3 separate regions of the Homo sapiens genome follow, and all the other regions are linked to region 2. The links come from fine-mapping of genetic effects on gene expression. A gene starts in region 2. Each other region holds a variant in brackets. All regions are shown on one strand. Distances are from middle to middle.

What was found. PIP is the estimated chance that this variant, and not a neighbour inherited with it, causes the effect.
Region 1: its variant is fine-mapped to the expression of CPNE4 in adrenal gland (GTEx, PIP above 0.99).
Region 3: its variant is fine-mapped to the expression of CPNE4 in lung (TOPMed, PIP above 0.99). The same link has a PIP of 0.9 or more in testis.

What each region holds. Positions count from the first base shown.
Region 1 is chr3:131,917,701-131,924,966 of GRCh38, reverse strand. All of the region lies in intron 1 of CPNE4 (copine 4), which reads left to right. Among named protein-coding and RNA genes, the nearest start is that of MIR5704, 65 kb to the left of the region's middle. The variant T/C (reference allele first, on the strand shown) is at 4,200.
Region 2 is chr3:132,031,938-132,039,203 of GRCh38, reverse strand. CPNE4 (copine 4) reads left to right here and starts at 4,190. Exons shown (of 16, transcript NM_130808.3): 1 at 4,190-4,637. RefSeq lists a silencer at 3,966-4,065 and an enhancer at 4,441-4,610.
Region 3 is chr3:132,281,811-132,289,076 of GRCh38, reverse strand. No RefSeq gene overlaps it. Among named protein-coding and RNA genes, the nearest start is that of ACP3, 32 kb to the left of the region's middle. The variant G/C (reference allele first, on the strand shown) is at 3,784.

The sequences.
Region 1 (7,266 bases), 110 kb after region 2:
TAAGCTGTGCTTCAAGGTTGCTACTAACAAGGTTACAGTACCATTTGGAAAAACCAAAGAAGAGGTGGGAGCTGAAGGAGAACAGAGAGCATGTTGCATTTGTGATCCTGCTGTTTGAGCCCCAGGGACATATAAGTCACCAAGTCATTCCATCAGCTGGTTGATAACACTCACGTTTACACTGATTAGTTTAGGGGTTTAATTTCCTTTATAGCCAAAAAGTATAGTTTATGTCACCATTGTTTCTATTACATCCTTTCTAGGGACTGAAAATACTATTACTGGTCTAGACACACCTCTATACTAGTGGTTTTCAAATTTTGATGCATATTAGAATAGCCTAAGGAATTTTTAAAAATATCAACATTCAAGCCTTACTCTATTTAAATTAGAATATCTGAGATAAAACACAGGTGCCAGCATTTTTTTTAAAAGATCTCCAAGTGATTCCTGGGTGCAGCAAAGTTTTGGAACCACTGCTATACACATTTCAAGATAATTTAGTATTTTCTTTACATTCTAGATCCTTTCACTCTCCTGTTTGGTAATTTTTGTGATTTACATTAAATCATTTCTATGATGATGTCTATGATATTTGGTGAAGTGCTTGAGCTAAGTTCACGGCTGAATTGAGTGGTATGACTCAGTTTCTGCTTCTCTTGCCTTATCCCTCCCACTCCTTCTTCACTGATAAGGTTGGAAGTTGGGATGGGGGATGAAGATGAATACCTATCCAGGGAAGGAAACAAATAAGGACTTAGCAGCTGTAAGGGAGACAAGATATGTCATGTGGCTATCGTTAGCTATACTTCTGATGAGAAGAGTACAGGACTTTTGTTCTTTCACTGTCCTTGATGAGTCCCCAGGGGACACGTAATGTCTGGAAGACCCTGCAAGTAGCCACTATCACAAGGTGAACCACTGACCAAAATCTCTCTTGAGTCTCCTGTTCTGTTGAATTAAGCTGGGCCACGTAAGAGTCAGGAGGGTCCCTTTGGTCTTTTGGATTCAGAGAAGAATAAGGCAGCCACTGGCCCCTTGGTCCCTTTAGTCTCTCATTCTGGGTCTTACTTTTGGTGGAGAGAGGAGGATTAGAAAGAAAACCTTGGGGTGGTATGGGAGTCATTTTACTTAGGGCCTGGGGCTTAGCTGACATGAGCCACTAGCCCACATGAGGCATCTTTTACCCCAGACCCCTCTTTGGTTCTGTTGGATTTTTTTTTCTATTTTTTTTTAATTTTTTTTTTTTTTTTTTTTTTTTTGAGACGGAGTCTAGCTCTGTCACCCAGGCTGGAATGCAGTGGCATAATCTCGGCTCACTGCAGCCTCCACCTCTCAGGCTCAAGTGATTCTCCTGCCTTGGCCTCCCAAGTAGGTGGTACTATAGGCATGCATCACCATGCCCAGCTAATTTTTGTATTTTTAGTAGAGACAGGATTTCACCATATTGGCCAGGCTGGTCTCAAACTCCTGACCTCAAGTGACCCACCCACCTTGGCCTCCCAAAGTGCTGGAAATACAGGCGTGAGCCACTGCGCCCAGCCAGTTCTGTTGGATTTTCTGCACATCCCCTGCCTCTCACAGGCCTTATAGTCCCTGCTCCACATTCTCAGAACTAGTGAGATCTCTCTGCACAGTGCAAGAGTCCTGAGGGAGCAGATAGAATGTTTGGTGACAATATTTTATACATACATACACACAAACACACATTTTTGCCTCTGTTTCTTTGGTAATACTATCAGCACAAAAGAGGACTACGATAAAGCAAAAGTTATTTGTAGCAGGCTTTTTCATTGAACTAAACTCTGACTTTCAAGTAAAAATAAAGTTAATTCATTTTTAAACCTCCCATGAGCTAATTTCTTTACAGAACTTGCCAAAGAGTCCCACATGTTCAATGAACTGGTCCAACTTATAATTAAACCTATTTGTTTTAAAGGTTTTGGCCCAAACCAAAATATACAAACAACTTTTAACATGAACCATTTTAATTTACAGTCTTGATCTATAATAATTATTTATCTTTAAATCATAGTTCTTTCAAATTATCTGAGCTTTAAGTGTGGGCACTTGGGCATTTGCTATTAATATATTCTAGACCACAGGACAGGAGACATAGAAACAGACATAACACTTTTAGAGGATACACTATATTTGTTATTATGCTTGCTTCTTTTATGTCTATTCTCTCCTCTAATTCTCACAATAGTCTTGGGAGGTAGCTATTACTATCTTTCTTTTTAGAATAAGAAAACAGAGGAACAGAGAAGTTATGTCACAACTAGAGAATGTTTAACAAATTAATGCCCGTGAATTTCCAAAGCACTTTCAACCATATGTTATGTAGCACCCAAATGATACTCATCCATTTGAGCATCTCATGCCCTCCAGATGCAGCATGCTGTTTCCATGTTTTCACCATTCTTTGATAACTGGTCATACAGATGGGCATTTCCTGTCTTCTTTTCTTAGCCTCTCCAAATTTAGATCAGGCTCTTGGCTTTAGCTTAAGACCTGTCTCTCTTAGTTTATGGATGAGGTAGTGATGATTCTGTGTAAAGCCACTAAACCAGTTCTGGCATGAAGAAGGCTGCTTGTGTTCTTCACAATAGCGAAGGCATGGAATCAACCTAGGTGCCCATCAACAGCGGATTGGATAAAGAAAGTGTGGTACATATACACCATGGAATACTACACAGCCATATAAAAGAACAAAATCATATCCTTTGTAGCAACATGAATGCAGCTGGAGGCCATTATCCTGAGTGAATTAATGTAGGAACAGAAAACCTTATACCACATGTTCTCACTTGTAAATGGAAGGTAAACACTGGGTACTCATGTACGTAAAGATGGCAACAATAGAAACTGGAGACTACTAGTTGGGGGCAAGGGTTGAATAACTGACTATTAAGTACTATGCTCAGAATGTGGGTGGGTGATGAGATCCATCACACTCCGAACCTTAGCATCATACAATATGCCCCGGTAACAGACCTGCACATGTGCCCCCTGAATCTAAAATAAAAGTTGAAATTATATCAAAAAGAGCCTGCTTGATAAATATTACCTCTCTTCTCTCTTCTCTCTAGTTTGGACCAAAGCATGTCTATCTTCTCTGGGCTTTGTGATCACTGACTTGGTCTTTGCTAATTACTTTGACGATTCATCATGTATCTACTTGCAGAACTCTCTTTTATATTAACCCTAGTAACATAATGATTGTTTAGCACTTACTCTATGCTCTATATCTGCATTGTTGCTCACTGAATCCTCACAACAGTGCTAAGGTGAATCCTGTTATTAGTTCTATTCTGCAGATGAGGAAACCAAAGTACACCTTGCCTATCATTATGGTTAGTAAACCATGGAGGTAGAAAATGAACTCAGGATATCTGATTAAAAAAGCCTATACATTTACATATCATACTCTAGTTCCTTCCTTGAATAAATATTTCATGTACTTGATCACTCTGAAAGTTTTTCAAAGGCAGTGACCACGTTTTGTTATTTCAGAGCTCCTCATGGCACACGATCAAGTATTGGGCATATGGTAGGCGCTAGGTAATCAATAAGTTGAATTTTAGGGGTCTTAGGGATAAAGAGAGAGTATCTATGACTATGAACATCTCTTTCCAGTTATCTGTGAAACTTATTTGCTACTTGGACTGTTCACCTCCAGTGAAATAGACAAACACTAAGACTGGAGTCTGAGAGACCTGAGAGTTAAAGAACGTACTCTGGTGTTCTAATCCAGTTGGTGGTGGAAGTAGGAATAGTTTGGTGCTTTTTGCCCAGAAGTGACATCATTTCTTCTTGGGGGAAGTGAGTTTCTGAGATGCAGAGGCAAAGTTGTCACTCTTGTCACCCACCCTTTGGTGCCACCCAGTAAGTGTCAACTGTGTGGGAGCAATGTTGTCAGCCCATCAGGTGTGGACAGGAGGCCTTTGTTCTGCTCAACAGCTTAACTTCTGGTTATGCCATACCACTGTAAGGATACCAGACCATCAGACATCTTCTTTAGCTTCAGCCATTTACCATGTAAATCTGTCTTTGAGGCAGTATCAGTGACAAGCTCAATTTGCGGAGAGGGAGGAAGGAGAATCGAGGAGCAGTGCCCTTCTAGATGAAATGCTTGGAGTCTTACACCCATGAACATTTGGTTCTGAGATTTGACAAACAAATGATGAACATTTGTT[T/C]CAGAACATTTGGTTCTGAGATGACACCATAGATCATATTTGTTATATTTCTAGGTCAACTGACATTTTAAGGGCCTAGTTCCTGGTTCCGGAGATTTTTTTTCTTATCAGCATCTGAAGCCACTGATTTTTTTTTTTGTATTTAAAATGTTTTTATTATAGAAAATTTCAAAATAATAACCACTGACTTTAAAATACCCCCACACCCAAGATATCTGTCATCAGTTGATTTAGGAGGCTCCACTTCCAGTCTGTCCTGCCTTGAATATTTGTCAAACAGTCCTTGATCCTTAGCCACTAGGACTTTGCAGACATGTAAACTAATAGCTATAGCATGTAAGTGATAATTAGTGTGAGAGAAAGCTAAACCAGAACTGTAGGAACACAAATTAAGGAGTGACTAACAAAGGTAAGGGGGAGGTCGTGAAAATTTTGTCAAGGGATTAAAATTGGGCCAGGAAGAGAAATAAACGAGTAAAAATGTTTTCATGTTAATAAATCTACATATAATTCCATAGGCCTTCTAGGACTTGAAAGTACGAGAAGGAAAATGAGAATAGAGCAATTTACAGTGTCTGGAGAATAGTGGGCCTGATCAATAAAGGTAGGAAAAATCAGTGATTCTAGGCTAAGAAATGTAGGCTTTGGCCTGCAGCATTTATGAATCCACAGAAGGATGTTGGGCAGCGGAGTGACCTGATCAGATTTGAGTTTAACAATTTGCCAAACATCCCTAAGCAACTCACACCTGCTGACTGCAATGAGGAATAAATTACAATGGATCCAGGCTGGGGAGAATGAGAGAAGTGACTCTGACTCATTTGAGGTTTGTTTCCTTAGCTTTTGCCTTATCTCTATTACTGCTTTCTTTTAATTAAATTTTGTCTATTTTAAAAAATTCATATATTCACTGATTCACTTGCTTATTATAGTTTTCTTTATAAGTATCACCTAGTTCGATGTTAAAGATAATCTAAAAGGGTGTTGGTCCTTTAGTAAGAGAATTTTACCTCTTCATGATCAATAACATATTATATAGGTTGACGCTATTTCTGCCACCTATTATTTACTTTTTAAGTAAAATTTTATCTGAGTACAACAAACATACAGAATAGTGCACACATTGTAAATATACAGCTGGGTGAATTTTACAAAGCAAACCCTCCTAAATCAAGATGTAGTTTATTTCTGCACTCCAGAAGCCTTCTTGTATCCCTCCCATCATTGCATTCACAAAAGGTAACCATTGTTCTGCCTTTATCATTTGGCCTGGTTTTCAACTTCACAAAATTGGGATCATACAGCATGTACTGTTTTGTATTTAGCCTATTTTGTTTAACATTATGTCTAGATTTATCCATATTGGCACGTGTATCAAACTGTCCTCCATTTTCATTGCTATATGGCATTCCATCTTATGAATTGACCACGATCTAGTTATTCCCCATCCTTTTCTTAGGCTGCATGTTGCTGTTGTTATTTCTAATTTACTCATTCAGGATTGGAAAGAAATCTATCCAGCTGGCATTTACCAGTGGACAGATTAAGTGGAGTCTCATCAATCCTCTTCACTATTCACTTAGTGCTAGCATTTGCTACTTCTCAGTTGACTATCTGAAGGTCACCTTGATATACCTGACTTAAGTTGCTGAATCCAGCAGGCATTTATTTAGAGTAGACCTTCCAGGCTAGAGCTGGAACTCTGACTTAACCACAAGCTCAGCACCCAGTGTAGTACATGAAAGACAGCACCTCCTACACTGCACTGTTTCCTGGGCATTCTCACTTCGGCTCCCTACAACACTTTTCATAGTAAATAAAATATTCCCAAATGCAATATGCCTCTACCTGTTATTCTTTAGCCTCTAGCATTTTAAAAATGCTTTTTCTTCTCTGTTAATCATTTGTCTTCTAATGTGTTTCATGTGTCTTCTAATGTGTTTTTGTGATTAAATAATTTTGGGAAATATTATACACCATATCTCCTTTTTGGAGATTCACAGTGCAAATTAACATAGTAATGGCTCTAAAATGTCCTGTTACAAAAAAACTGTTTTATGTTATAAAGTCTACCATTGTTCCTTTTAAGATTATCTATTAGCACCTCATAGAATAACAGTTCCCTAGCACACAGCTCTGTAGAAAACAGCCAGAGGAAACTCCACGTGTGGTTTTTTTTGCTTATTTGTTATTTGTTTTTTCCTTTCCGGTATGATTGTCAGCTTCTGAGTCTGTCTATGGCTATTTTAATGGAAATATGGCAGAGAACAAGCAAACTTAATCTTTTCTAAATATTTGTTTGCCTGTTCATTTCTCCATCAGCCTGGAAACTCCATGAAGATAGAAACCTTGTCTTTTCATCTTTGTATCTGCCAGTACCTACCATGGTTCTCAGCACATACTCGAAGTATTAAATAAATATTTTGTGTCTAAATGAGCGTGATATCACATTCTGGGACTTCCAGCATTAAGGGACTCAAACTGAACTGTAAAATGAACCTAGATCTTGAGGTATGTAAGGGGAGGAAGAATAACATTATACACAAAATCCTGCACTTTTGAGTTTAAAAAATCTGACTGAATTCTGCTTCCTCCATTTTTGGGTTGTGCAATCTAGCAATTTATTTAGATTTTCTGAATCTCAATTTTCTCATTTGTAAAATGGAAACAATATCAACAGCTACCTTCCATAACTCTTGAAAGGATTAAATTTGATCGTATTATGGGAAGCACTGGGACAGACACATAATTACCCAAAAATGCTTGTCCATGAGTATTACTCTTGCCTGTGAGTATTCTACATCTGGTGCTTGTTTCTCTGGTCTCTCTCTACCCACCCTGGGAACTGCATGTTTTCTTGTACTGGAGTTCTTTTCACATTCAGTGAGAACTAGAAATCCACAGAATTCTCAGCTGCCATACACAAGGCATCTGCCAGATTTCCTACTCATCTGATAATGTCTTCCACAGTCTTGCCCTGGTCCACTGACTTGATCAATTCAGCCAATGTTCCCTTCTGCAGCAAGAGGCCCTCTGAAGTTTCTCTGTGCTAGTGGAGAGATCTTGT
Region 2 (7,266 bases):
TGCCCTATAACTTCTACTGACATCTCATCTCAATGGCTAGATCAGTGCTATATAACAAAACTTTCTGCAATGATAGAAATGTTCTATATCTGAACTATCCAAGATGTTAGCTACTAGCCACTTATGACTGTTTAGCATTTAAAATGTCACTTGTGGAACTGACAAAATCAACTTTTAATTTTACTTGATTTTAATAAATTTAAATTTAAATAGATACATGTGTCTAGTGGCTACCACAATAAATAGTGCAGGGCTAGACCTTAATCACATCACTACCCCATCTGCAAGAAAAGCTGGAAAATGAAGGTTTGGAGCTAAACACGTTGCTACCCTCCACAAAATTATGTTTTTCTTAGTAAGGAAAAACAAACAAAAATGAATATAGGCTGGGCAGATAACAGCCTCTGCAACCAAGGGATATTTGCTTGCTAATATTCCTTAAGCCCAGAGGAATGGAGTGCTAATGGGTTTATCATAGGCATGAAAAATGGTGTGTCTGGGAAGATATTATGTAGTTAAAAAGCAGAATCTTGGAGCTGGAGTTCAATCCAAATACTTTCTTTTTACAATGAGAAAACTGAGGCTCAGAGGGACAACTGAGAGACCTCATTAATAGAGCAATAGGAAAATCTGCTCTGAAATTATACAGAGCTATTTAGTGGCCTTTATAACATCACTCATGATAAAATGTAAAATCTCAGAAAGAAAATGCCCTCTGCCTATGGTTTTTAAAATACAGGAAAGAAAAGCTAGAGATTTTGATGCCACCTATTGGTAGACAGAAGTATAAACTGCCCTTTCGTAGCACAGGTTGTTACCCAATGTTAGAGGCACCACAGGTGGTATAGGGTTCTCATAAAAAGGAATGACAGACAGTGGAATATTTAATTCCTGCATCAGCTTGCAACATGTATGTTCATTTTCCCTTGACTCTTAGCATCTTAGAAAAAGTGCTTTCTTAGAGTGTTCCTTTCTGCTTTCCAGTAATACATCACACCTCAGGCATATACAGAAACACCAGAGGAAGACATATCAGTCAGTTCTCAAAAATCACTTGAAATAGAAAAAAAGAACAAATTTTTGAGCTATAAATAGCCCTGGGGTGAGATTCAAAGTTCTTATATGATCCACAGCCTCAAAAATATATCCTGTTATTTACAACAGTTTCCTTTAGTAGTTCTTACAGAAAAAAAAAAAAAAGAAAGAAAATAAAAGGAAACAGAAATTCCATTTCAAAACTAAATGCTCACCCTGACTCATTCAGGGAAGGATCCAAGGTTTTTGATGCAGGGCACTGACTCTCTGCCTGTTTTTCCCCTTCATCATCTGCTCCCCTTAAAAAATGGTATCAACTGCATTGGTAAGAATCCACATTTCTTCCCTTTTGTTCCCTGGCTTCATTCCAGGATTTCACTTGTCACACTGATGGGTGAGATGCCTTTCATATTGGCATAAGACACTGAGCGGATGCCTCCTCTTATCTTATCAAACAGAAACCCGGCGAGTGAATCTACCCAGAGCTGAAGCTTCCTTTGCAACTTGGGAACACCAGGGCCACAGTGACTTTGTGGCTTGGCTTTAGATAAATTTGACCATGGCTGTAGAACCCAGCAGCTCAGAATCCATTAAAAGGAGAGCTGGGAGGAGGTGAGTGATAGAGACAAGGGGATTTTGATGTTACAATTGTTGAGGGGACTGTGGCTGGCGGGCAACTTGCTGTGGGGGCAGTGATTGAAAACATGGATTATTAGCTGGTTACAAATCTTCATTTGTACAGATGAGCTGTTGATTTCATATAAGAGGTGGAAGTAAATTCTGCTTTATGTGCCCTGTAAAAAGCTTCTTTGAATTTACCTTCAGTGTCATGCCTTCAGAAAAAAATTCCAAGTTTCTGGCATAAAGCTGCACGTTTTCTGCGCACTGGCATGCAGGCAACTGTTTGTTTCTAATTACGGAGCTGAAGCCTGCTGGCAAAGGAAACCATATTTGTCACAAGTTGTGGCATTGTGTTTAGTTTGTGTATCTATGCTTTTAACATGTAGGGCCAAAGATAACTATGTTGTTTTTCTTTTTCCCTATGAGCATTGACTCTATAACTTCTTTTCTATGGTCCATGTGTTCACTTATTCTAGCTGCCCCTTTAGAGACTGCTTCAATGAACAACCCCTATCCTCCCATTAACTAGTTGTGTTCCCTGGTCTGGTCATTTCAACCGCCCACACCCTGGATTTATTTTTGTAGATATAGTAAAACTTTCTTGGGCAGGTTGTTGTAAAAATTAAATGGGATGGTAAGTAGAGTGCCTAACAGATTGCCTGGAAATAGTACATGCTCAGCACATCTTAATTCCTTTTCTCTCACCTGTAATATAAGAAGTTTATGTTGAATGGTCCCTAAGGTATTTATATTATTTTTAATTTTATAAATGTAGAAGGTGGTAGACACCTTTCTAGGCATTGGGGTTATAATTATGAACAAGACGACAAAACAGACATATCCCTTGCCTTCATAGAAATTAAATTTTAGAGGATACAATTAACATGCAAGGAAATGCACAATGACTTTTCCTTCTTCTTCCTTCATCTTTGCAAGTTCAATCCAATTCAAATTTTGAGTTTATCTCTGAGGCTACCTCTTAACAAAACCTGGAAGTAATGTTTTTGGACTTAACATTTTCATATTTAGTAGTCATACACTGGTTTTGCCTGCTTAGCATCCGTCTCCCCTTTCCTGGTAGGAGGACCCTGAATATCCCTTGGAGAATTGTCCCTGTGTCTCACTCGCAATGTGTGTAGATCAGGTGGGGCTCCATCCTGGCTCCAGGAGTGCTATAGAAGACATCACATGCTCCTAGACATTGTGGAAGTCCTGGCCCATTAGTGTAATTCCATATCCAAAGGTCACAACGATTGACTTATGCATAGCCATGTGACCCAAGTTTTTGCAATCAAAGCAAATCCAAGGATTTCTGTGGTAGTTTCAGTGTACAGAGAAGCTCCCTGAGGTCCTTTCCAGGGTCCATGTTTAGTGTTATCCTATTTCAGAAAGGCTTTAGAGGTGACTGAAAGAAGAAAAATGTTATTTGTGTTCTGTCAGAAGGTTGTCCCTTTGTTTATCAAAGATATTTCTGTCTACTTCTATAGAACAATTAAGAGGGGGTCTTCCTCCTTACCCTATTGGTTCTCCTTTTCTGGACTTTGAAATTGAGAACTTCATGGTTAGTGAAAAGATTTTGGCTAATATCTCCTCCAACCTTCAGGTTGGAGAGGCTTTGTTAGATAGCCCCTTAATAGGGTGAGAAGGAAGACCTTCCATCTCCCCTCCACGTTAGATGTAACACACTCTATACCATCCCAATGTCAGAAAGAGACCGTCATTCACTTTACTTCATTAATTCCAAAGTCCAATTTGTGAGTCTGACAATACCAATGTGCAGAGAGAATTTAGTTGTCTAGTTTGTCTATGGTAGCAGACATAATCAGAAACAATGCCCTGTATTTGAATAAGTTCATTTGTCTGAATTTGAATAAGTTTGAAATAGGAAGGCCATACTTTCTCTCTAAAGTGCTTTAAAACATGTGGAAGTGGTCACCCCTTACATAAGACAGCATATTTATATCTATCTTTAAGCATAAGTACTCCCTAAGTATTTCTTTATCTTATTTGTGAGGTAGATGTATTCAGAAACTCATCATGAGATGAAGAAAATACTCTTTGTCCATTAATTTACTCATGCATTACTTACTAAAAATAATTTCCAGGCTCCTGCCATACGCCAGACAGTTTTGTAGACACGAAGGATCCAGAGATTAGCAACACCTTTACCATTTTTGGTGACAGTTAAGCACCCATCTAAGAAGTTTTCTTTGGTGAGTGCCAAAAAGTGTAACTCCCATTCCCCCCACACCCGCGCCGCGATACGACCGCTCCACCCTAGAGTGGAGATGGAGACCAAGCACTTGGAGATCTAAATCAAGTGTCCCCAGGAGCTCAGTTGAGCGACAAAGCTGAGCAGAAAGCCCAGACTGCGGGCGCGGCAGGACCACGGAGAGCGCCGCCGCCAAGGCCTGGGCGGGGCCTGAGCTCGGGTTCCCGGGGCAATGCTCGTCTCCGTCAGCAACCCCCAGGGGGCGCTCGCGCGGAGGTTTCGGAACCAGTCTCTTGCCGGGTTGCTGGGTGCATGGGATTCGTCAGAAGGTGGAAATCTCTCTGTGAGAAGCTGCCATCTCCCCGCCACCCGCTCGTCCCCTTCTCTTTCTGCCACCCTCCTTTCCTTCCTCCCTCGCTCCACTCCACTCCCTCCCTCTTTTCTCAGTACCCTCCTCTTTACTCTCCGAGTTAACTGAGAGCCGACCTGACATCTCCAACATTTTCACCCTCTTCCCCCACCCCCATCACCGAGAATGGAGTCAGGGTTTCCGGAGAGACCGAACTCTGCTCTCAGCACCTTTCCCAGCCGCTGTTGCTAAACTGACCTCGGAGGACGAGAGGGGAAGGAGGTGCGACGCCCCTTACATCAGTACAAAACTACCACACCAACCACCTCCACTTCAAAGCCGGATTTTGCATCCTGGGGGCGGGACAGACCTCGTCCCGGGCTGAATTCTCTCTCCACTCTTCGAGATTGGCACACCCAGGTAAGTAAATGCCAACTCTTCATTCCTGTGTTCCTGGGGCGCTGTGATTGCAAAGTCTGTTGGAGCTGCTGCGTAGCAAGACCAACTTTTGAGATGCACTGGTTCTCGCTCACCTTTGCACGTTTGTCATTGCTGTTGTTGTTTTAAAAAGCAGCAGCAAGCAACGTCTTTAATCTGAAGGGACTTCCATCCCCTACCTCTCGCCTTCTGACATCCACCCAACTCGCCCAGGTGGGGTGGGGCGAATGGAGTTGGGGAGAAAGACCGCGGAGGGGAGGGGACAGCATGGCACGGGTGAGGGATAGGTCAGGGAAGTCCCGAAGGCGGAAGAAGGGGTACGGTTTTCAAAATCGGGGAAGGGGAGGGGAAGGGAGTTCTGGCTGAAGTTGCAGCTTCCTCTCTGACAGTGAGAAAGCTGTGGGACATTGTAGTCCCTTCCAATGGCTTGACCTGGCTGCGGTTGGATTCAGCCTCTCAACCTCCTCCCCCACACTTCTTACAATGAGGTTCTAATAATATTTTAGTTGCCTCTTCTCAGTGTTAAAAACTAATGAATAGGCTTGCAAGTGCTTTGATTCAACGTAGTCCTTCAGCGCTTCTTCCTCTATGGAATAAAGTAGCCAGAAGGAAAGGGGGACGGGGACAGGGGACGGGACTGGAGGGACCACTGAAACCAAGCCACAGCTGAGTAAGGAGATCACGACCCCGCGTGGTATCACAGACACACGAGAACTGTTAGGGCTGAATCCAATGGAGATAATTAGGAGGTGGTCCACGCCAAGTCAAGCGAGTGCTGATTACCATCCGGTGAGGAGCAGGCTAAACCCTGATGAAAAATGCTCCTCCTTCATCTTGGAGTAGGTGGGCTTTAAGGCCCTATTTCCCATTCTATGTTCCAAATCTGACGGCGCCCCAGGGCGCCTTGGCGGATTGCCTTTCAGCCCCAGAACCTGCTAGGCTCCAGGGAAAGTCACAGGCGGCAGAGATGATCCAAGGGGCGCAAATCTATGAAGGGCTTGATGTGGGTGGTTGGGAAGTGGAGGGGGGAAAGGTGAGCAGAGTGAGGCGGGAGGGGGCTAGGGAAGCGAGAGTGCTCTGGGAAGCTTTGCAAGAGAGACATCTGAGAACCTCTCCCTCTACACACACACACACACACACACAGACACACACACACACTCACACACTCTCACAGGATTTCAGTGACTTGTGGGAAAAGATGCCTCAGCACCTTTACACCCTGTGTTCAAAACTATGCAAAACCAACTCTTCATCCTCTTGCTGCTTTGCCAGGGATTTTAAAAGCACTGTTCTGGTTTTTCTTGGCTCACTTGGTTTTGTTTCCTGAACAGCACTTTTGAGCTGTCCAAGATACTTTAATATGTTATCTTTAAATGAAACTAAATCCTGCTCATTCGCGCGCCCCCGCGCGCACACATACACAGGCGTACACAATTACCTTAACTTCAAATAAAGTGTTCTTTTCTCCATACTCTTCTATTCCCTTAACAATCCCTGTTCTCAAAGGCCTTTGTGTTTTATTTTCTGCTTTATAACAAAACAAAAAAACAAACACCCACCGTCCTATGACACAGGTGTTTTGAATCCATGTCAATTTTTGTAGTTAGTATATGCTGGTTAAACCACATAGCATATCCCCCAAAAAGCCAGAGGCAAGCAAAAACTTAATTTGATGCCCTTCAAGTTTCGGAAGGTCCCATTTCTTTTTATTAACCAAAAGATAAGATGAAGCTCAGCATGGCTATGGCTGTGATTAGATAACTTCTGATATTTTCATTTCCCTTACCGAGCTGCTGCTTCTAGGCTGAACTCATTCACCTGCCCATTTTTAAAGAGAGACTGACAAAGTCACTCTGGCAGGTCAGGACTCAGAGTTAGTCAAAAGTTCTCACATGTAGAGAGGTGCATAAAATAGAGGGAGGGTTGGAAAATGCAGTCAGAACACCTGTGTTAATAGTGCATACTAATAAAGGCCAACATTTTCTCAACTATCTCTCATGGGAAGATTCTTATGGTTTTAGAGGATCAAACTCAAAACACATCAGAATGAGGTGACTTTTCCATTAACATTACATAAAAGGATATATTGGTCTATAGCAATAGTAGATGTTTAATCCTGGGCAGTTTTGTATGATTGTGTGAGAAGAGATTGCCTATAATTGAACCAAACCTCTACTTATGTGTTAACAAGTAAAAACTCCCATGGCCATCAAACTTATGCCTTTCCTGTGAGTGGTCAACCTTATTTTTATTCTCCCAGACACAGGCCCAGCATATTTGACTGGGAGAAGGCACAGATGCGGTACAGTGACTTCCCAGTTTGAGATAGTTGCTTTACTAAAATTCCTAAATATTTCTTTGAAAATAGTTGCTCTGAGTTGTTTCTTAAGTGTAAAAAGAAATTAAAAGACTTCCTGTTTATCTCCAAGTCTCCAGTAGCAACATGACATTTTGGTGAATTATTGGTTTGTCTTAAGGGGACTCTGGTTTTAGAGGTTTTAATTAAAAGGTGTTTGTTCTAAAGTATACTTAATCTGCTTGTGTATTTCTAATTAAAAATACCTCATTTCAGTTAGTAGGAAGTAAAGATGTTATCTGTTTATAGAGAAGT
Region 3 (7,266 bases), 250 kb before region 2:
CTTCTTTGCTCCCTGTTTGGCTTCAATTTTGTAAACTATGTATCTTTCCAATTGAAGCTAGGGCCAAGGCTGCTCTAAGCTTCACCTAAGAAGAAAGAGCTCTTCTCCTTCAATTTCAGTTGAAAAAACCTGGTTTTTATTTCCATGCCTATTGCCTCATATTCATTCATCCAAAAAAATATTTATGGAGTGCCTATATGTGTCGGGCACTGTTCAAGGTTCTTACAATGCTGAAGTGAACAAAATAGACAAGTTTCTTTTTAAAATGAAATATATTTTAGCAGAGAGAGATAGTAAACGAGTAACCAAATAAATAAACAGGATAATTTCAGATAATGATGAAACCATCCCTATAGACTTCAGAAAGTTAATCAGAGTAGAAAAGAGGGGGAGAAATAAAAATAAAGCAAGATCGCAGCACATTCACCATTAATCATGAGGTCAGCTTACTCTCTGACCTGCCTACTAAGAGTTATTCACTGCCTGTTACCCCAGAATCACACAGACCTGTCACCACTTAACTGTTCTGTAGATAACAACTTAAACATTGTGAAATGTTGTTTTCCATTTGAGATATTCTTTCAGGTCCTGCATACCAGTGAAACTATTGATGTCAACTGGTCTGAGGGACCTCACTGAGGCCCCATGAAAAGCTGACTTAACAAAGAATGCAATTTCCACATCCTGATTATTTCATTACGCTTACCTGACCAATTAATGACCTCAATTTTCTAGGCCCTTGCCCTCCATGATCCCCTTAAAAACCCCAGCGCAGAACATCTTGGGGAGATGGATTTGAGTCTCCTCCTATCTTTTCACTTGACCACTCTGCAATCATTAAACTCTTTCTCTGCTGCAAACCCTGTTGTCTCAGCCTATCAGTCTGATACTGCACAGCGGACATACAAACCCATTGGTCCTGTAACAGTGAGAACTACAGTGAAGACAATAAAATAAGGTGACATGACTGTGAGTGACTTGAGGTGGGGGATACTTTAGATGAGTGGTCAGAGAGGGTTTCTATGAGGTGACATTTGAGGTGAGACTTGAATGCAGGAAAGGGGAGAGCCATCAGAGCATCCCAGGAAGTGTAAAAACCCTGAGGCAGGGAGTGAGATTGTGGTCTCAGAGGAAAGAAAAAAGGCCAGAGTGACTGAAGAATTGTAAAAATGGGAAAGGGCAGGAGCAGACAAGGTCAGAGAGGTAGGAAGGTGTTGAATCACCCAGGATCTTGTTGAGGCCATGGTGAGGAGTTTGGATTTATTCAAAATGCAATGGGAAGCCAAATGGGGAGTTCTAATCAGGGGAGTGATATGCATTAAAAATTCTGTGGCTGCTTGTGAAGAATGAATTATGGAGAAGCAAAAAAGGGAATGAGAACAGCCAGGAGGCTACTGTAGTGGCCCAGGAAACAGATGATTGTAGCTTGGATCAGGGTGGATTTGGGGAAGTCAAAAGAAGTGAATGGACGAGAAAAATACATACTAGTATTGGATATGAGATGTGAGGGAGAAGGGTGAGAAAAGGAAAAAAGGAAAATAGCTCAGAGCAGTCTGAGCTATGTGAGATATGCAGAATTTATCAGGCTCAGAGAAACATGAGTATGGGACTTCAGTCACCTTCTCCGCTATGTCTGGGACAATTGTTTAAAGGTATTTTGTTCTTGACTAGCTGCTACATCCATTTTCTTCCTGTTTTTGTGATACAAAGAACAATATATAGCCAATCATTAGCTTATGTTATTTTAATGTAAATTCTTGGTAAACAACTTAGGAACTGCCTCTTCTTTTACTCCTTAAAACTTCAACTAGTAACTGCTACTAATCAGGGTGTATATTTATGGCAACTTGAATCTATGCCCCCATGTGGCCATCCTCAAGCTTTGGACTCCTATAAACTCTATACTTAATTTTTCTGGTCCTCATTATTTAAGGCTAACGGGAGAATCAAGGGGCACTCCTAGGCATTGGGCTTCAGAAATTGGGTGAATGGCAACAAAAGTGTCAGACACAGATGATGAAGCTTCAGAGAGACACAGGTTTATCTTATTCATTTAAGACATACTTTTATATCTCTTACTATCCTGGTTCTCAACCTTAGCCTCACACTGAAGTTACCTTAGAATTAAAAAAATAGGCTGCGTGCAGTAGCTCATGCCTGTAATGTTAGCACTTAGGAAGGCTGAGGTGTGAGGATAGCTTCAGCCCAGAAGTTCAAGATCAGCCTGGGCAACATGGTGGAAGCCCCATCTCTACAAAAAATAAACAAAGGTAGCTGGGTGTGGTGACTTTCCCCTATCTATAGTCCCAGCTACTCAGGAGGCTGAGGTGGGAGGATGGCTTGAACCCAAGATGGCTGCAGTGAGCCATGATTGTGCTGTTCTTGGATCTCACGCAAGAATTTGAGGCATATCCATAAAGTGAAAACAAGTTTATTGAGAAAGTAAAGAAGCAAAAGAATGGCTACTCCATAGGCACAGCAGCCCCAAGGGCTGCTGGTTGCCGATTTTTATGTTTATTGATTATATGCTAAACGAGGGGCGAATTATTCATGAGTTTTCCAGAAAAGGGGTGGGCAATTCCTAGAACTGACAATTCCTCCCCTTTTTAGACCATATAGGGTAACTTCTTGAAATTGCCATGGCATTTATAGACTGTCATGGCACTGCTGGGCATATCTTTTAGCATGATAATGCATTATAGTTAGTGCATATAATTAATGTACATGTCTTTGTGACCTGTACTTTGTGCCAACCTTTTATCTGATCCTGTGACTTAGAATGCCTAATCTCCTGGGAACGCAGCCCAGTAGGTCTCAGCCTTATTTTACCCAGCCCCTTTTCAAGATGGAGTTGCTCTGGTTCAAAGGCCTCTGACAATGCCACTGCACTCCAGCCTGGCTGATAGGGCAAGAGCCTGTCTCAAAACAAAATAACAACAATAAAACCCTGTGCCTAATTAGTTATTAGAGAATTTTTTGGAGATTTTAATTTAATTGCTATGGTATATGGGCTGGATATCAAGATTTTTAAAAGCCACAAGTGATTCTAATATGCCTTAAAATTTGAGAAGCACTGACTCATTACCTGGCTGGTTCTGTTTCAAATGCTTTACAGGTGTTAATTCGTTTAATTCTCATAACAATCATGAAAGTTGATCATAAGAATTGGGTCATTCTTGTCACTCACAACTAAAACAGAGTTGAGAAGCCAGGGGGAACAAGCACGCAGGGTACAACATTGCTGAAAGAATGTAATTCTCTGCAAGCCCAAACTGCTTGTTGTAACCTGAAACCAGTTTTATCTCATCTTCTGAGATAACGTGCTGCAAAGGCTAGCACTAATTGTGCCCACAGCCACCATTCACCAGTTGAAGCTTTCTGACTCCCTAAATTCTTTCTTATGCCAATGAACTTTCTCAAAGAAGAATACATAACATTTCTCCTTTTTTATAAAACTGATATCGGAATAGGGCAGGGAAGTGCTGGGCGGAGAAGGGCGGGTCCCTGGCGAGGGCTCCACCCCCAGGCCTGTGCCCACGGACCTAGGTGAGGACAGGCATTTGTTTTCAGGTCCAAATGTTACATTTCCCAAGACCACCCTGGCCCACCATGCCCCCATCCCCCCATCCTGTGCCTATAAAAACCCTGAGACCCTAGTGGGCAGACACACCAGCGGCTGGACATTGAGAGGATCACAGCAGTGGAAAAAGACACAAGCACCTAGCCGTTGAGAGGAACGCACTGGCCTAAGAACATACTGACAGACGCCGGTAGGCCAGCAGG[G/C]CGGCAGGCCATCAACCCGCGGAAGGACACGGACTTTGGCCAGGGCGGTATAAGGTAAGCCCCGCTGCTGGGCGGCCTGGCTCCAGGGGAAAGCAACCTTCCATTCCATCTCCCTTCTGGCTCCCCCATCTACTGAGAGCTACTTCCACTCAATAAACCTTGCACTCATTCTCCAAGCCTACGTGTGATCTGATTCTTCTGGTACACCAGGGCAAGAAACCCCATGATACAGAAAGCCCTCTGTCCCTGCGATAAGGCAGGGTGTCTGATTGAGCTGACTAGCACAAGCCGCCTACGGACGGCTAAACTGAAAGAGCACCCTGTAACACAGGCCCACTGGGGCTTCAGCTGTAAACATTAACCCCTAGACACTGCTATGGGGTCGGAGCCTCACAACCCGACCGTCTGTCTGTATGCTCCCCCTAGAGGTGTGAGCAGCGGGGCACTGAAGAAGCGCGCCACACCCCCGTCACACGCCCTGCGAGGGGAATAAGGGAACTTTTCTCGTTTCAAAACTGCTAAGCCGTTCTTTGCTATTCGGACATACCCGAAGACCACCAGGTCTGTATGTATGGCCCAAATTGCAATTCTTTCTTCCCAAATAAAATATTAAATTTATGGATTCATCTCTACATGTTTATTTTGACTTTGATATAATTATATGAGAAAGGTACTATTATTAACTCTCATTTTATAGTTGAGGAAATTAAGGCTCAGAAAGATTAAGTTGCTCGTCTAAGGTCACATGACAGAAACGGAGCAGGGATCCCTCTTAGGGCCCCCCTCCCCCCCTTGCCAAGCATGGAAATAGAGGAAAATATTGAGTTCCTTCCGGGGAAATTCTAGGCAGTGAACTAGCCGCCTCACTAGCCCTGAGAAGTAAATAAGCAACTTGATAAGCAAGAAGATAATAGTAGCTGAAAACAATAGCCAAGGTAGTTAGAGTCCTGAGATGTTTGGTTCCCTATAGAAACTAAAGACAACATCTCAACATATGTCCCTGAGCTACTTTTCAGAAACACAGACCCCAGCCAAATGGATCCACTGGCATGTAGACCTCAGATAAGGGGCGATTGAGAACTGAACTCTGACTGCCGTTCTTTTTTCTAAACTTCTTCCTTAGGAGCCTAAAGGACGTCATACCCATGGGCCAGACCTAACATTCCTTTCTGCTGATCCCAAGTTTTTAGACAAAGTTTCCCTTCCTTAACCAATTGCGAATCAGAAAATCCTCGAATCCACCAATGACCTGTAAGTTCCTGCTTCAATATATACTGTCTTTTTAGGCCAAATCAATATATAACCTCCACATATGCCTTAAAATTCTGCCTGTAACTTCTACTTCCCTGAAATTTATCCCTGCTTTTAAAAACTCTTGCTTGTAAGCTATTGCGAAGGTTGGCTCTTACAGTGTGAGCTGCCTGATTCTCCTTGCTTGGTGCCCTGCAGATAAATGCCTTCTTTTCCCCCCTGCTGCAAAACCTTGGTGTAGATGTTTGGCTTTACTGCACTGAGTGAGCAGACCCTGGTTTGGTTTGGTAACATGACTTAAAAATTACAAAGAAAAGGAACAGGAACACAGCTCTCTGGTCCTCTGGTATTTAGAGCTGAAACAGAGGAGGAGGGGCCTGAAAACATGAAGGCAGAACTTAGAAGGGAAACAGGAGAGTGTAGTGTTGCAGAAGCTTGGTGGAGAGAGTATTTCAATGAGGAAGTGGTCAGCTTTTTTGAAAGCCCTGAGTGTTTGCTGAAGAAAGACAGAGACAGAGAAGTGACCACTGGATTTGGCAAGATGAGGTCGTGTTGAGTCTGATGGGAACAGTGCCTGTGGAGTGGTGGAGATGGAAGTACAATCACAACTGATTGAAAAAGGAGTGGGAGCTGAAGATGTAAAAGTAGTAACCACCAAGAACTCTTTGGGAAAAATTAGCTAAGAAAGGGAGCTGAAAACTGGGAGGGGGATGGAGGAGATTTGAAGTTGTGTGTGTATTCAAGTATTAATTTTGTATGATGATAAATAAAGAGTACAGAGGTGGGCACATCAGCTCATGCCCATAATACTGGCGCTTTGGTAGGTCAAGCCAGGAGGATTGATTGAGCCCAAGATTTGGAGGCCAGCCTGGGCAACATAGCAAGACCCTGTTCCTAAATTTTTTTTTTTTTAAATTAGCCAAGCATGGTGGTGTATGCCTATAGTCTCAGCTACTCTGGAGACTGAGGCAGAAGAGGATCACTTGAGCCCAGGAGTTGGAGACCAGCCTGGGCAATATAGCAAGACCTTGCCTTTTAAAAAGTGGGGGAAAAAAAAAAAAAAGGAAGGCATTTTGTTCCTGACTACCTGCCTCACCCATTACTTTCATGTTCCTGGAATTTTTGATATGAAGAACAATGTATAGCCTATCAGTAGCTTATGTGATTTTAATATAAAATACTTGGTAAGCAACTTAGGAACTGCTTCTTCTTTTTCTTTAGAAACCTACTTGTAACTGTAGCTAATCAGAGCATATATTCAGGGCAACTTAAATCTATGTTCACAAGTTGCAGTCTTCAAACTTGGTCCAAATAAAATCTCTACTTACGTTAAGTTGGCCTCAATTTTTTCCTTTAGGTTGACATTCCTTTGATCTTTTAATATGTTGAATTTTTAAATTTCTTCATTGAATCCTTGATCATTTTGCATTTTTTTTAATAGATGTTTTCTTTTTCCATTATTTTATTTTGGATTTTTAAATAGTGTTCATAAAATATTGGTCTATAGTTTTCTGTGTTATTATTTTCAGATTTTGGTGTCAAAGTTATACTGGTTTTGTAAATACTGATTGAATAGCCTTTTTCCCTTATGCTTTGGAACTATTTTAATAACACTGGCAAGCTTTGTTCCTTGTAGATTTGACCGAAGTTGATTGAAGCCCTCTGTGAAATTGTCTGAATTTAGTGTTTTTAAAAGGGTAACCATTTGATCACTTTCTCAGTTTCTTTGTAGTATTTTGTGTCCTTGGTTTTGTCCATCTCTTTTGCTGTCATTTTTGGTAAATTAACTTACATTTAGTATAAACTTGTAATTTATATTAAAATAATCTATTTCATCCAGTTTTTATAATCTTTTAAAATTCCCTTTATGTGCATGTATATTTTTCTCACTTCTAAATGTGTTCATTTTGTATTGCCTTTTAAAAATTATATTAGCCAGTTAAGCTACCTATTTCATTGTTTTTCTAAGATTCAGTTCTTAGATGTATTTATTAGTCCTGTCTCTCTGTTTTTTTTCTGTAATTCATGGTTTTTTACTTTCATCTTTCATGTTTCTTTTGGTTTACTTTAGCTTTCTTCTTCTAAAATGTTTTGATTTAAAAGCTTAATTTAAAAGCTTTGTCAACAAAAAGAGTCAAACTCTATAAAATATTTGAAGAGATTTATTCTGAGCCAAATATGAGTGATCATGACCTGTGACACAGCCCTCAGCCCTCAGAAGGTTGGGGTGCA